Homo sapiens: one gene and its partners. The protein of the gene in region 1 purifies or fractionates together with the protein of each later gene. This does not show direct contact. Each region holds a gene or a part of one and is shown on either strand. Other genes may lie near its edges.

Region 1 (4,377 bases):
AATTTAGTAAGGTGTAAATTTCTTAAATGCAGAAGGCTATGTTTCATTCATCTTCACCATTGTTTCAATTTGAAAAACCCTTATTAGTAGTAGCAGTTGCCAAATATAGCACTGCTATATTCATCCTGAAGCCTAGAGAAATAACTGGAATAGTATAAGATCAATAAATGTTAGATGAATGAATAGTTTGCTGTGTATTCCTAATTAAGACGTCAGCTTTTCTTCTTTTTTGAGATGAGTATCGCTCTGTCACCCAGGCTGGAGTGCAGTGGTGCAATCTCGGCTCACTGCAACCTCCACCTCCTGGGTTCAACCGATTCTCCTGCCTCAGCCTCCCGAGTAGCTGGGATTATAGGCGCCCACCACCAAGCCCGACTAATTTCTGTATTTTTAGTAGAGACGGAGTTTCACCATGTTGGTCAGGCTGGTCTCGAACTTCTGACCTCAACTGATCCACCAATCTCAGTTTTCCAAAGTGCTGGGATTACAGGCATGAGCCACTGCGCCTGGCCTGGATGTCAGCTTCTTGAAGAGCAGGAACCATCACTTATATTTAGAGTATACATCTGAGCTCCACCAAGCATCCAGTATGGGGCCTGGACACAGTATTAGTTTCCTTAATAGTATCGTCCAGTATGCCTAATATAGCATTAGGGGCCTAGGAGAATACAAAGGTTCCATCACATACACAAAGTGGTGGTGAGTACAGAGACTTCTGGAAGTAACTGACGACTAATCAATATTTGCTAAATGACTGCTTGGCCAAAAGCCTTCCTGCCTCCCAGTATCCCTGTCTTTCTCCAACTCACTGATACTAGTTCTGACGCGGGGATCACACAGCTCATGTGCTCCCTTGGCCTAGGGATAGCTTTTCAGAGAATGACCATACGGGTTTGATACTTCTTTTTCCGGACCCTGTTCCCTCCATATCCCTCGACAATTGACGAAGTAACCCCTATTGATATCCTGGACCAGGCATGGCTCTCCTTGACGCAAAGCAACATCCACTACCCGCCTCCTCTGACTCTGTTCTGGGCCTGGATTCACCTGAGGGCTTGCGCCCAGTCGCTCTGAATCCTCAAAGGCGCCGCCATCTCGACCCCGCCTCCACCAGCCCACCTCTTCCGCCCCTTCCCGGAAGTGAGTCCCCGAGAAGCGTGCGGCGAGGACAGAGGTGGGCTCAACACCAAGAGGCCACCAATGAAAACGTGACTTTTTCACATTCCCCGCCCCTTCCGTGTGCACGCTCCCCACGAGGGGCTGGTTCCTGAAAGGATGTACAGAGGATCCCCAACCGCCTGCGAAACCCAAGCCGCCGCGTAGGAGCGTGCGTTCGGGCCCTCTTCTCCCACCTGTTCGGTGAGCATCGCGTACCGCGTTCTTCAGGAGGCGTTGCGGGCACAACGGGGCTGCGATCAGCGGCCGCGCGCGCGCATGCGTCCTCAAAGTTCAAAGTCCTCGATACGCCTGAGGCGCCTCAGGCCTCGTGGCTGCCAGCATTTTTCTGCTTTAAGATCCTTTCCATGACTTCCTTGTTTAGGCCAGCCTCCACGATCCAGCTGCCAACCATCTAGCCTACCCTGATCTCTGAGCAGGGGTCGTCGTCATTTTACTCCAGAGGAGACTGAAGCCAAAAGGTGGTGAGAGGAGAGTACAGCAGCATTTACTGAGTCCTATAGTAGCCCAAGCGCTTTTCATTCGTTATATTAATCTTCATTCTAATTGTGCGAATTAAATATTATTAATGGGAAAACTAAAATGAAAAAGATTACATAGTAAGGCGTAGTGCTGGGATTTGAACACGGATCTCTTGGTTTAGGATCAAGGCACTTTCTATTCCACTGTTCTTTCTCTAAATTATTTGCTCCTGGCCCTATTTAAAGAGTTAACAGTGTATTTAGGAAGAGAAAACTATCATTTATTGAACTCTTTAGACATACCAGCCTCCTTACAAACCTTACCTTTTTTTTTTTCTTTTTTTTTTTTTTTGAGACAGGGTCTCCCGCTGTAACCCAGGCTGGAATGCAGTGGCGTGATCACGGCTCACAGTGTTGCCCAGGCTGGGCGCAAACCATCCTCCCGCCTCAGCCTCCCAGTGTTGGGATTACAGGCGTGAGCCATGGCACCCGGCTTCATCTCTGTGCTTCCAGAGAGGTTATTAAATGATGTGTCCAAGGGCACCAAATGAGGCAGTGACAAAGCTAGGTCCAAGTCTGTTTCAAAGCCCATTTTCTCCCTCTTGCTTAAGTTATACCGCCTCCAAGGCAAATGAGTTGTGTAAAGTGCCTAACTCCCTCTTGTGATTCCCCATTGCCCTCAGAATAAAAAGTCTTAAACTCCCTACTATGTCCTACAAAGCCTTGTGATGATCACTTACTTATATCGCCAGTTTAATATTGTCTTATTCTCACACTGTATTCTCCCATCACTGAACTTTTTTTTTTTTTTGCTCTCATGTGTCAGATTCTATCTCAACCACCTGCTCTTCCATTGACCAAAAATAGTTTTCCCATCTCTGGCTAACTTCTGTTCCATCTGTCAAGTTTCAGCTTGGAAATCACTTCCTCTAGGAAGCCTTCCCTGCCTATTCCTGCCCTTGTCTGGATTAGGCATCCCTCCACTGTGGTCCCAGTCTTTGCTATCTGTACACTGTGTAGTAAACTGCCCTGTTTCCTTGTCTAGGTTGTAAACTCCATGAAGCCAGGAACTTAACTGACTTAGACAGTCTTGAATCCTCAGCACTAGCATAGTGCCTGGTACATGATAGGTACTTAATCATTTGTTGAGTGAATGAGAGACACAGTTAAGGCAATAAGGAGTCCTAGTTGCTTTACAGCCCATCATGGTGAAATTTTTGCAAAGGCTGAAGTCATTTCTCTTCAAACCTTAAGTTCCTTCTGTATGCTGCTTTCTGCTGAGTGTTCTGATGCAGACGGGCAAGACAGTTTGGGCAAATAAATACACCTCACATTTTTGTATAGTTTACAAAGCCATCTCACCTTATAGACCCAGAGGCCAGGTTTCTGCATACTGTATGCTACAGCCACAGTGAACTCTTTCCATCCTTCCCATGTGTCAAAACCTACCCATATTTGGGCACTCTTTCACTTTGTTTGTTTGTTTGTTTTGGAGATGGAGTCTCACTCTGTCACCCAGGCTGGAGTGCAGTGGCACGATCTTTGGCTCACTACAACCTCCGCCCCTTGGGTTAAAGCGATTCTCCTGCCTGAGCCTCCCGAGTAGCTGGGATTACAGGTGCCTGCCATCACGCCCGCCTAATTTTTGTATTTTTAGTAGAGACGGGGTTTCATCATCCCGGCCAGGCTGGTCTTGAACTTCTGACCTTATGATCCATCTGCCTCGGGCTCCCAAATTGCTGGGATTACATGTGTGAGCCACTGCACCCAGCCTCTTTCACTTTTTAAACTTTGTTCTTCAGCATAGAATAAGGCTAGTAGGATAAAAGAAGAAAGGTTATTTATTTGAAACAGGGTCTCACTATGTCACCTAAGCTGGAGTACAGTGGCACCATCATAGCTCACTGCAGCCTTTGAACTCCTGGGCTCAAAGGATTCTCCCTCTTCAGCCTCTTGAGTACCTGGGACTACAAGTGTGTGCCACTATGCCCAGCTAATTTTTACATTTTTTTTCTTTTTTCTTTTTTTTTGAGATGGAGTTTTGCTCTTATTGCCCAGGCTGGAGTGCAATGGTGTGATCTCGGCTCTCCGCAACCTCCGCCTCCCGAGTTCAACCTCGGCTCTCCTGCTTCAGCCTCCTGAGTAGCTGGCATTACAGGCATATGCCACCACACCTTGCTAATTTTGTATTTTTAGTAGAGACGGGTTTCTCCATGTTGGTCAGGCTGATCTTGATCTCCCGACCTCAGGTGATCCGACTGCCTCAGTCTCCCAAAGTGCTGGGATTATAGGCATGAGCCACCGTATCCAGCCATTTTTAAATTTTTTTGTAGAGATGAGGTCTTGCTATTACCCCTGCTGGTCTCAAATTCCTGGGCTCAAGGGATCTTCCTGCCTCAGCCTCCCATAATGCTAGGATTACAGGTGTGAGCCATCGTACCTAGCTGAAAGTTTAGTTCTTTTTAGGTAGATCAGAGATAGCTTATCTAAAAAGATGACATTTCACCTAATTCATATTCCAATAGCAAAATCCACTGAGCTTATTGAATGTTATGTCAAGCATTCTCACAGTTTATCTCATTCAGTTCAAACCACTTTTCAGGCCTGCTCTCAGCCAGGCCTAGTGCTGGGGGCACAAAGGTAAATCAAGACGAACATCAGCCGGGCACAGTTGGCTCACACCTGTAATCCCAGCATTTTGGGTGGCTAAGGCAGGAGGATCACTTGAGCCCAGGAGTTT
Region 2 (3,303 bases), on another chromosome or scaffold:
TTTTTTTTTTTTTTTGAGACGAAAGTCTTGCTCTGTAGCCCAGGCTGGAGTGCAGTGGCACGATCTCAGCTCACTGCAATCTCCGCCTCCTAGGCTCCAGTGATCCTCCGACCTCAGCTTCCTGAGTACCTGGGACTACAGGTGTGTACCACCACACATGATAATTTTTATGTTTTTTGTAGAGATGGTATTTTGCCATGTTGTTCATACTGGTCTTGAAATCCTGGACTCAAGCGATCCACCCACCTCAGCCTCCCAGAGTGCTGGGATTATAGGTGTGAGCCACTGCACTTGTCCTAATATTTTTTTAAAAAGTTTGAAACCAGAAGAAACTGAGGAGTTTTTTAAGCAAAACATAAACTGTCCAAATTTGAGTCATATTTCTCATTTCAATCACAAGAAAAAATTAATTGGTTCTATGAAATACATACTTTTAAGAGACATAGGAATTGCAACAATAAGGCCGGGTGTGGTGGCTCACACCTGTAATCCCAGCACTTTGGGAGGCCGAGGCGGGTGGATCACCTGAGGTCAGGAGTTTGAAACCAGCCTGGCCAACAGGGTGAAACCCTGTCTCTACTTAAAATACAAAAAAATTAGCTGGGCATGGTTGTGTGTCCCTGTAATCCCAGCTACTCGTGGGGCTGAGGCAGGAGAATCACTTGAACCTGGGAGGCAGAGGTTGCAGTGAGCCAAGAAAGCACCATTGCACTCCAGCCTGGACAAAAGAGTGAGACTCTGTCTCAAAAAAAAAGAAAAAATGAAGTGCAACATTAGAATTTAAATAAACTAGAATACACACTTCAGGGCAGAGACTTATTTTTACTCATATGTAGCCTGAACTCCAAAACCAGCTCAATTTTTAATTACAGTGCTGGCAGTTAAAAACCAAAATAGCACTTTGAAATTGATACATAACCCTTTTGCTGTGATGGCTTTGTTTCAGAGCTATTTATGAAGAAATTGATGCTCACCAGCACAAAGGAGCTCAAAATGATGGTGACTGAGGTAAAGACTTCAACTTATACAACTTAATTCCATATTCCATATAATTTCAGTATAATTATCACTTTACATATTTAGTATTTAAATTTTCTAAGGGCCATCTGAGTCTGACACTTTGAAATATGAGTTCCCCTGAATCATTCAAATTGTGCTGAACCATTGTTCACTAATGAGAGTCATTCTTTGTGATTTTCTCATCTGTAAATAGTAAGGCTTGGGAATACAGTAGTTTATGGTATAGAAATATTAATGCTAACAAAATAGATGAGCAATAGGAGTAGCACTGAAATCAGGCATTTGTTTTTCATATGCAGTTAATACTTGTTAACCGGTACCAGTAGACCCATTTACCGTTAGTCCTCCAAATAGGTCTGAATTTTTCCTATTTTCAGCACTACTAATCCCATGTATTTACTATTTAATGGTCACCAATGAACTATCAAAACTTATTTATTCCCCTTATACCCTCCCCTATGGAAGAAGCACATTCTTACCTTTCTTCTACTAGACTGTGACTCTCCAGCTTCCCAGTAAAGACAAGAGAGTTATCAAGGAATGGGGAAAGAGAAGGACAGGATGAATACTGGCCATTTTCTTCTCTTTATTTTAGAAGAAAGTGGATGATCAGCTCACTACCACATCAAAGGTGCCAACTCTCTAAAACGTAGACTCTGTGCAGCTTTGAAGCCTGGAAGACAATACCTACCAACATGTCAAAGCCATGGTGGCACATTTCTGCTATAATGAAGATTAAATAGAATAACAGTTCCAGGATAACACTGATTCCTGACAACAGCGTGAGATTTCAACAGAACTTGTTTGGAACAAATACTCACTTAAAACTTCAGCAGAAGAAAAATTACTTAGTCCTTAGGCCAACCAATTTAACTGCAGTGTCATGTTTCACAGGCCTTCCTACATTTAGAAATCGTCACACAGCTGTGATAAGAGTAGATTATTTTACTATGAAATAATTCTGAATAGATGAAAGCATAAAATGTGAGAAACTGAATGTATTATTCAGGAAGAATACTGAGTGCCTTCATTTAACTAAAGTTGAATGTAAAAGTCAATTTGCACTTCTTTATAATCCTCTGGTTTAGAATTATAAATTGTTAAAACCTTGATAATTGTCATTTAATTATATTTCAGGTGTCCTGAACAGGTCACTAGACTCTACATTGGGCAGCCTTTAAATATGATTCTTTGTAATGCTAAATAGCCTTTTTTTCTCTTTTTACTGCAACTTAATATTTCTATTTAGAACACAGAAAATGAAAATATTTAGAATAAGTTGTACATTTGATGACAAATAAATCACTATTAAAACAATTTAATACTTTTTTTTTTTAACAAAGGTTTGTTTCCAGAAGAACTTTTGATGTCAGTAAATCTTCACAATCCCACCTGTACATTTTAACATTCATGGACTTGTAATGGTGATGCTTTGGCTAACAGCCTAGTAGATGTATTTTATTTCAATTTTATGATACTACAGTTTCAAAGTAATTATTCAGAACTCTGAATATAAAATAGCCCTAAACCTTAAAGGACAAATCAAATTTGAAATAAGAATTTAAATCTTTGGACAAGCTGTTAGGGCTTAGTGACTCCTCTTCTACTTTGAGCTTTTAAAATACTGACTATTCATAATGAAGGAAAATAGCAACCAACTCTTTTAGACACAATAAACATGGTTAGAAGTTCTGGCCTATGACTTGAAACAAATAACCCTGAGCATACATTTTTGAAAAACATTGTCAGATTCATTGCTGTAAGTATGAAGAGTTAATAATCTGGAAGGGAATTATGGAATTAAGCTGAACCCATGCCTGCATATTTAAAAAACAAAGCGGCTTATTTTAATAGTATCAAACTCTTCAGTATGGTATTGAATAGTCAGTCATATATTCTAGCTAGGCATATGAGTTTCTTATGATAAAAGCTGAACTTGTTCTCTCAAGTTTAAGTGAAAAAAATTAGTTGAGAAAAAATAATTATTTAAAATATAAGCCTTCATATTATTGTACAATATTTCTCCTTTGAGAAGATAGGATATATGATTTTCCCAAAAATCACAACTTTGAAGGAAGACTTAGTTGCTGACTTCAATTATATCCTGGAACTGGCAACTTGTGCCCTTCCTTTGCTTCAAAAAAAGTGTAAGAAAGAGTGATAAGATCAACTTTAATCATTCTTGGATCTTCAGCAAATTCAGGATCAATGTAGAAAAACACTGGCATATCTACTTCCTCTTGGGGATTAAGCCTTTGTTCTTCAAAACAGAAGCACTGGAAA
Region 3 (3,936 bases), on another chromosome or scaffold:
GCCTGAGGGGCGTTGTCTATCTCTAGAATGTATTCCTTAGGAGACCTTTGTTGAAAGCATTTCTTTCATATCATGCACAGATGTAAACATGAACTAAGTCACCCAGCTGAGCTACCAACTTCCAATGATGAACTCAGAAAAGCTCTTAGATCATGTTTCACTTATAAACCTAGCCCTTTAATTAAAAGTGTGCTCTGAGAGGATGTGATGGGGGAATCTGACCTATCAGAAAGTATGTGGACACATCAGAGAAGCCTTCTTTAAGGGTATTTCTTTTATGCTGAGCTCTAAAGAGTGACTTTGAAATTAACCAGGAGAAGGGAAGGATGGGTGCTCCAGGTATCTGCACAGGCACATGGCCTGAAGGAACAAGCCCAACGTGAGGGCCTCCTAAAGGATAGCTGCTGGCTACAGTGCAAGTAGCAGAGGCAATGTGGAGGAGAAAAGGCTGGTGAGGTGGTGAAGGGACAGGTTACATTTTATAGCTTTTATTGTAGGTGAAAGGGAAGCCACTGAATATTTAAACAGGGACGAATATGATCAGATTATTTACTTTGATTGATTCATTCAAAAATGTATTCATGGGCAAACATGAAGCTATGCACTGGGAAAAAGTGTTGACAAAGAAGACAGAGCCCTTATCTTCATGAGGCTCATGATTTTGGGGCCAGGACTTTTGTTAGCACCTAGACTGGGCTTATTGTTTTTGTATGTGTAACCATTACTTGGAGAAAGGAGGCTCCAAGGAAAGCTTTTGAACCCCTTTTCAAGCAAAGCCCATACAGTAAAAGATCAAGGACTTCAAAGTTAAATAGGTCTGGATTCTAGTCCTGGCTCTGCCACAATAGGCAGTAAAAACTCACTTGCAGGGTTGTGGCAGGTATTAAAAGAGAACATGTGTTCCCAAGCTGGCACATAGTAGGCTTTCAGTGAATGTAGCTATTATTCAAGCCAGTAGTCATTGTGTATTTACTACAGATAAACACTGTGCCAGGAACCAGAGGGCATAAAGATGATTAGAACATACATGGTCCCTTTTCTGACAAATCCTAGGGAAGAGACCACACACTATTCTAGGGAAGACAGACACCTAGGTAATTAACAAGGATGCTAATTTGATCAAAGCTAGGCAATATGTATAGTATTTTGAGAGCCCTAGGAAAGAGGAAGTGACTTCTCAATTAAGCTTTGTAAGATACTCAGGAGTTGTAGGGGAGCTACACAGCGTATAAGAGGGCAGTACAAGAGAATGAGTGTTACTAAGCTATTTGGAGAAAGGATAGAAAGGACACCAGAGATATCTCAGGGAACGTAGAATTAATAGCATTTGGTGACAAATTGTTGTGGGAGAAGAAGAGACAAAAATACTGAAGCTGCAGTTTGGAACTGGTTGGAAGATGATATCTTTAAATAAGATAGAGAATTTGGAGCTGTAAAGTTTCTAAAGAGAAAAGAGTTCTGTTTTTGACATATAGTGAAAAACTATAAAAATTTCAAGAACAAGGGCTGAATAGATACTTTTTGTTCTGACTTTTTAGTTAAAATTTGAAGAAGATTGATAGGGACAAATAACTTTACTAATGATATAAATTCACAGGAAAGCAATGAGGAATTGGGAAGTACAGAAGCAGGAAGAGAGGTGGCCAGTGTAAAGAGCTGGGCAACTTCAGGGAGAAGCAAGATTGAAAGAGACACTGTTTATTTGTTTTAAATTACTGAAGAATTCTTGACCGTATTTTGTACTGTCAAGGAGTTAGAAACAGAAAATTAAAGGTAGAGATGAGAAAAAGTATAATTAGTAGAGCAAAGAATCAGAGACACTGGAGAACTCCTTCCATTTGCATGACACTCTACCCTTTCATAAAACATCTTCACAGATGGTGTCTCTAATCCTCACATGAACCTTGCAAGGTAAGTATTTTTCAGCATTTCAAGAAAAGTAAATTGATTCAATGTAAACTTCTAACAAGAGCAACTATGCTTCAATGAGCTGCTAAATGTAGTACAAGCATGACACTCTTATGAAAACTATATTTGGTAATAATTAATATGTGTTCCCATTAGATCCCTTACCTTGTAAAATTCCAACACCCTTACAGTTCCACCTTCAGATCCAAATCCCTATAACTAATTATTGTAACTGAAATGATTTAAGACTGGAATGAGAAGAAAACATGTTTTTTATGTCTAGTCTTTATAAATTGCTCTCCTTGACGTTCCTTTGTATATCATAGAAAGAAGACCCCAGGGCTTTCCGAGCAGAATGGCAAAGGAGCCCTGAAGAGCGAGCGGAAACGCGTGCCAAAGACCTCAGCGCAGCCCGTGGAGGGGGCCGTCGAAGAACGGGAGCGCAAAGAAAGGCGGGAAAGCCGAAGGCTTGAGAAAGGGCGATCACAGGATTACCCAGACACGCCGGAAAAACGGGATGAGGGCAAAGCGGCGGATGAGGAAAAGCAAAGAAAAGAGGAGGATTATCAGACCAGGTACCGCAGCGACCCGAACCTAGCTCGGTACCCGGTGAAACCGCCGCCTGAGGAGCAGCAGATGCGCATGCACGCCCGGGTGTCCCGCGCCAGGCACGAGCGGCGCCACAGCGACGTGGCGCTCCCGCGCACCGAGGCGGGCGCGGCGCTGCCGGAGGGCAAGGCCGGCAAACGCGCGCCGGCGGCAGCCAGGGCCTCGCCGCCGGACTCGCCGCGGGCTTACTCGGCTGAGAGAACTGCGGAGACCAGGGCGCCGGGCGCCAAGCAGCTAACGAACCACAGCCCGCCGGCGCCCAGACATGGGCCGGTTCCCGCAGAAGCCCCGGAGCTCAAAGCCCAGGAGCCCCTCAGGAAGCAGAGCCGCCTGGACCCCAGCTCGGCGGTCCTCATGCGGAAGGCCAAGCGCGAGAAGGTGGAGACCATGCTGCGGAACGACTCTTTGAGCTCAGACCAGTCCGAGTCGGTGCGGCCGTCCCCGCCCAAGCCGCACCGGTCCAAGAGAGGCGGCAAGAAGCGGCAGATGTCGGTGAGCAGCTCTGAGGAGGAGGGCGTGTCGACGCCCGAGTACACCAGCTGCGAGGACGTGGAGCTGGAGAGCGAGAGCGTCAGCGAGAAAGGTAAGGGGGCGGCGCCGGCCGTGCGGGGACTTCAGCCAAGTGAAGAGGCGTGGGCAGAGGTGCAGGTGCTAGGCTAGTTGCTGGGTTCAGCATTGAGGCTGGGAATGCTCACAGATAAGATAGCGTTACCGCCAGTGGAAGGTCTTATTTTTATTAATTTAATTTTATTGATTGATTTGTGGGATTTTAAAACACAACAAGCTCCAAACTTAGGCTACAAAAGTTCTTGGTGATTTTGCATTCTGTCATTCTGGTAAATTTGGTATGCAGTCTAATATTTTTAAGATATTATTTTAGAGTGGATTTATTATTCTGTGAAAAACAATTTGTTTGCTAGAAAATGAAAATTATGCCTTATAAAGGAAGTAGACATTAAAAAAAAACCACATCAGTTACGTAATATTACAGTTGCAAAGGTAGTTTTTTTTTTTTTCAAACTTCAAATTAACCTTTCTCACAATTTGTGAACAGATTACAGTTTATTCTTGGACAATACGGATTTGAACTGCATGGGTCCACTTATATATGGATGTTTTTTCAATAAATATACTGGATTTTTTTTTTGAGAATTGCAGCAATTTTAAAAACTTGTGGACGAACCGGGTAGCCTGGCAATATTTTAATAAAATAAGAAAAAGTTAGGTATGTCATGAATGCATACTATATATATAGATACTAGTCTGTTTTATCATTTGCTATCATAAAATGTACATGAATCTATTATAAAAAGTTAAAAATGATAAAACCTTAAACACACACTTATAGACTACGTGGCGCCATTTGCAGTGGGAAGAAATGTAAATATGTAAACATGCGGTATTAAATCATAGCTGCAT
Region 4 (4,688 bases), on another chromosome or scaffold:
GTTCCCTTCTCTCTGTGTGCTGTGATTTGCACAGGCCATATATTTTGTTGGTCAGAAGTTCTACGGGGTGGGCCTCGATTTTTTCATCCCTAAGGAAATCCACTCTTGGTCCTATGGTCACCTACTGGGTGCCTCCTTCGGGTTTTGCTAACCTTCCTGGCCACAGTTGCTATACTGCCAATTGTCACACATAAGCCCACTCCATTTTGATAAATAATGTGTTGAATCTAATGGAACTCTTTAGAAACTGGTATTAAAAGAATCCCCAGCCCATTCTGATCTGCAGAACTAGTCTCTCCCACCAGTGCCTGGACTATTTTAACCCTATGCCCAGGACAGTTTCCTAGCATAGTCATCTCTAGAAAGAATATTTTCCTGAAGCAACAGATTTTTTGCTCCAGAATATTTCTTACTTTCCTTTTTCAGTTTGCTCTTTGTCAATCTGGATTAAAAAAAATCACTCTAAGCATATGAGAAATTGCAGCACTGGAAAAAAATACTGTCATTTCAATATCTTCTCATTTCCCCCCTCCCAATGTCTCCCTCTCTCTCAACACTCCCGAAGCCCATGATGTAAGTTAAATGTAGCTACATTTTTGTCCTTTCCACTTATTTATGTAATCATAACTAACATTTATTGTGTGCCTAAGTGTCAAGCATTGTAACAAAATATTTAATTAAAAAGTTATTCTTTACAACAACCCTACCATTATCATTATCCTTATTTGACAGAAGGAAAAAAAATCTGAAGTTTAAACTTTCCAAATTCAAGAAACATGTCCAAAGACATTGTTACAAACTGAATATTATATGTTCTCCCTGCTCCTCTCCCCACTCCCATATGCTAAAGCCCTAACTCCCAATGAGATGGAATGTGGAGGTGGGGCTTGGGAGGTTATTAGTTTTAGATTAGATCATAAAGGTGAGGCTCTCTTGAGGGATTAGTGGTCCTTCCTGAGACAGTCACCTGAAGGCAGAGTGAGAAGGCAGTCAACTGCAAGCCAGGAAGCAGGTCTGCATCAGGAACCAAATCTGTTCCCACCTTGATCTTGGACTTCCCAGCCTCCAGAACTGTGAGAAAATGTTGTTGAAGCCACCCAGTCCACGGTGTTTTGCAATAGCAGCCTGAGCTCAGACACAGAGCCAGGAAGTAACCGAGAGCCAAGACTCAAAATCTGCATCTATTCATACCCAAGCCCTTCACCACAGAAATACTCCGTTTATCATTTTTAATGGCTGCCTAACAGTTTGTTGGATTGAATTTTCATGATTTACGTAAGTATTTCTTAACTGATTTGGGTTACAGCCAGTTTCCATTTTGTAAGAGACTAGTGCTTAAAGCATCTTTGCATATATCTCTTTGTTCTTCTTTTGAACTATTTCCTTCGAATAGATTCCCAGGAGGGGTGTCTGATAAGGTACACAGCTCCTGTTACCTACTGGTGGCTGGCCAAATTTTATTGTTGCTGGAGAACTTCAGATCCCAGGGCAATTCATTAGGCTGCTTCTGACAGCAGCAATTACAGCCATGAAGTAGTTACCGCTAAAACCACCATCCTTTTTCAAGGGGTTATAGAGAGCTCGTCGGTAACTGTGACCTGTTTCTATCACCTGTGGTTCTCAGCAATACAATGCTTGGCACACAGTAGGCTCACAGCAAATGTCATCAGACTGACTAGAGACACCAGTGATTAGAAAGGCCATAGCTGGAAGTCAAGTTGGATGAGCTAACATTCCACAACGCCAACGCTTTTATTTAGTTACGTATTCTTTCAATATTGCATTTCGAAAACTTCAGGGGCTAAAAAGAGCTCAGAATGAGTTGGTACATTTTCATCAGTTGGGTATCTCTGAATGTCTTCAATGAACACATATAAAATTGGATTCAGAGTGGGTCAGTCTGGCAACCGCCCAGGAAGCCAATCCCCTGGGGCACTAAGTTACCCTGAAATAGAACTGAAATACAGGGGTAGCTGGCACAGGTCTCCCGAGGTGACTCCTTCCTGCTTGGTGAAATGTGCAGGTACCCAGATCCAAGAGAGGATCCAAAAGTATTTAGCAGAAACACACACACACACACACACAGAGAGAGAGAGAGACACACACACACAGGCTCGCCCTGGTCTCTGTCTCAGTCATTAACAATGGCTGTCACCTTAAAGAAGGAACAAATGATCAACCCAGTCTCCCTGGCTCTTAGACACATTTATGGGAAGTCAGCAGGGCAGGAAACACTCACAGGAACCCCAAGTCTGAACTGCCTGCTTCTCAGATGCTGGAAGGAAGCCCGCGGAACTACGAAGAGGGCTGCAATGCAAAATACTAGGGGCCTTCGCAGGGGCGCGCGGGCCGGGCTGCTACAGCCCAGGCCCCGGGCCTTCGCCTGGAGTCCCCGATAGGGGTCAGAGGCCCCCGAGCCCCACTTATGCCCCCACTCCCCGAGCCAAGAAAAAAAAAATTATGCGCACATTTAGGGGGATCATTTGTTCATTTCCTCGGATTCTCACAGGGGTCAGTCCCCACCCTGCCGCCACCAAGTTTACAATCCACTGTCCCAGATCCTCGGGCTGGGGGGGGGGAGGGGCGCGCCGAGGAGGGCTTAGTAGGAGGGCAGCGCCCGGCCTGGACCGGCCCTAGGCTCCCGGGTGCAGCCGGTGAAATGAAGCCGAAAGCCGTAGGCGGCGGCGGGGCCTGCGGGACCCGCGTCCTACCTGCCTCCCCCAGTCCCGGCCCGGTGCCGGGCCCGCCGCCGCCCGCTTGGCCCCGCACCGCCCGCCGAGGCGCAGTTCCGAGGGTCAGGCCCCGGAGCAACCAGAGGAGCCGCGCCATGACGCCCGCTCCGGCGCCGCTCCGCCCTCTGCCCTCTGCCCGTCTCTGCCCCTGCTCCCATCCCACCCCTCCCCCATTCTCTCCCGTCCGCCTGCGCTAGTCGGCCTCCCTCCCCACGCTCCGCCCACACCGCCAGTCCCCTCGTCTCCCTCCCCCTCTTCTCCCTCCCCTGCCCCTCCCTCCTTCCCTCCTTCCCACCTGCTCCTCCCACTATGTGCCCTGGGCCCTCCCAGGTCCCCGCCCCTCTTTCCTCCCACTCTGCCTCTCTCTCCCCCTCCCTCTTCCTCTCCTTTTCCCCTTGCCTTTCCTCCCCCTTCCTCTCCCCCTTCCTCTCTCCCTTCCCTTCCATGAGACCCTCCCCAACCCATCTCTGCATCTCCCAGCTCCTCCCACTCCTGCTCCTCCCTCGCCCTGCCCCCCTCCACCTATCCCAACTCCACTCATCCGCAGCCCAAACACTGATCTGTTTTAGTTTGCATTTTCTAGAGTCGTCCATAAATGGAATCATCCCATATGTACTTGATTTTGTCTGGCTTCTTTCACTCAACATAGTTACTTTGACATGCCTGCGTGTTTTTGCATGGAACAATCATTCATTGCTTCCTGAGCAGTATTCCATTTATGGATATACCACCGTGTGTTTAGTCAGCACTTGATTTAGCCTGCTTTCAATTTTTCCTGATTAGAACTACAGCTGCTAGGAACATCCCTGTGCAAATCTTTGTACAGACATATACGGTTTTTCCTCTCTGGGGTAAATACCTGGAAGTGGAATGCCCAGGTCGTAAGGTAGGTGTAACCATTTAAGAAACTACTATACTGTTTTCCCAAGTGGTTTTTTTCTTTACCTTCCCACTAGCAGTCTATGCGAGTTCCAGTTGTTCTTCATCCTTGCCAACACTTGAAAGTCCAGAGATTTTAACTGTAGATGTTCCGGTTCTGTGTAGTGGTAGCTCATTGTGGCTTTATTATGCATTCTCTAATCGTTAATGATGTTAAGCATCTTTTCATGTGCGTATTTGCAGCGAGTGTATTTTCCTTGGTGAAGTGTCCGTTCAGATCTTTTGCCCATTTAATGTTGAGTTGTTTCATTATTGAGCTTAGAACACTTTATATATTTTGGATGCAAATCTTTTATCAAACATATGCTTTACAAAGATTTTTTTTCCCAGTCTCTTGTTTGTCTTTTCTGTCTCCTAATATTGTCTTGGGAAGAGCAGTTTTTAATTTTGATGAAGCCCAATTTATCAATTTGTTAATGGATTGTTCTTTTTTTGGTATCATATTTAAGAAATCTTTGCCTAATCCAAGATCACAAAGATTCTCTCCTATGTTTTGTTCTAAAATTTTTATAGTTCTAGGTTTTACATTTAGGTCTCTGACCGATTTAGAATTTTTATATATGGCCAAAATTTTTGTTTTGTTTTGTTTATCTGTTTTGTTTTTTGCATATCTATATCCAGTTGTTCCAGCACCATTTTTATTGATTGATTGATTGATTGATTGAGACAGAGTCTCTGTCGGCCAGGCTGGAGTGCAGTGGCACGATCTTGGCTCACTGCAACTTCCATCTTCCAGGCTCAAGCAATTCTTCTGCCTCAGCCTCCTGAGTAGCTGGGATTACAGGCGTGTGCCACCACGTCTGGCTAATTTTTGTATTTTTAGTAGAGACGGGGTTTCACCATGTTGGCCAGTCTGGTCTTGAACTCCTGATCTCAGGTAATCTGCCTGCCTCGGCCTCCCAAAGTGCTGGGATTACAGGCGTGAGCCACCAGGCCTGGCTCCTAGCACCAATTTTTAAAAGACTACTCTTTCTCCACTGAACTGTTTTTGAATCTGTCAAAAATCAGTTTCCTATC

Evidence for each region.
Region 2: the proteins of COA4 (region 1) and COX11 purify together in Homo sapiens (affinity purification with mass spectrometry; one large-scale study listed by BioGRID and IntAct). This does not show direct contact.
Region 3: the proteins of COA4 (region 1) and RIMS1 purify together in Homo sapiens (co-immunoprecipitation; one large-scale study listed by IntAct). This does not show direct contact.
Region 4: the proteins of COA4 (region 1) and MSRB2 fractionate together in Homo sapiens (co-fractionation; one large-scale study listed by BioGRID). This does not show direct contact.

What each region holds. Positions count from the first base shown.
Region 1 is NC_000011.10:73,873,739-73,878,115, reverse strand, and holds the start of COA4 (cytochrome c oxidase assembly factor 4 homolog, mitochondrial), read left to right. Parts: upstream 1-1,269; 5' UTR 1,270-1,359; intron 1,360-1,374; exon of another isoform or gene 1,375-1,417; intron 1,418-1,540; exon of another isoform or gene 1,541-1,637; intron 1,638-3,640; exon of another isoform or gene 3,641-3,695; intron 3,696-4,371; exon of another isoform or gene 4,372-4,377. UniProt on the Homo sapiens protein: Putative COX assembly factor.
Region 2 is NC_000017.11:54,959,620-54,962,922, forward strand, and holds the end of COX11 (cytochrome c oxidase assembly protein COX11, mitochondrial), read right to left. Parts: exon of another isoform or gene 3,302-3,303; intron 3,297-3,301; coding exon 3,114-3,296; 3' UTR 1,708-3,113; coding exon of another isoform or gene 1,646-1,707; 3' UTR 1,008-1,645; coding exon of another isoform or gene 947-1,007; 3' UTR 803-946; downstream 1-802. Other genes in the region: TOM1L1 (TOM1-like protein 1), read left to right, coding at 947-1,007. UniProt on the Homo sapiens protein: Exerts its effect at some terminal stage of cytochrome c oxidase synthesis, probably by being involved in the insertion of the copper B into subunit I.
Region 3 is NC_000006.12:72,180,050-72,183,985, forward strand, and holds part of RIMS1 (regulating synaptic membrane exocytosis protein 1), read left to right. Parts: intron 1-2,234; coding exon 2,235-3,100; intron 3,101-3,936. UniProt on the Homo sapiens protein: Rab effector involved in exocytosis. May act as scaffold protein that regulates neurotransmitter release at the active zone.
Region 4 is NC_000010.11:23,093,750-23,098,437, reverse strand, and holds the start of MSRB2 (methionine-R-sulfoxide reductase B2, mitochondrial precursor), read right to left. Parts: upstream 2,860-4,688; 5' UTR 2,830-2,859; coding exon 2,712-2,829; intron 1-2,711. UniProt on the Homo sapiens protein: Methionine-sulfoxide reductase that specifically reduces methionine (R)-sulfoxide back to methionine.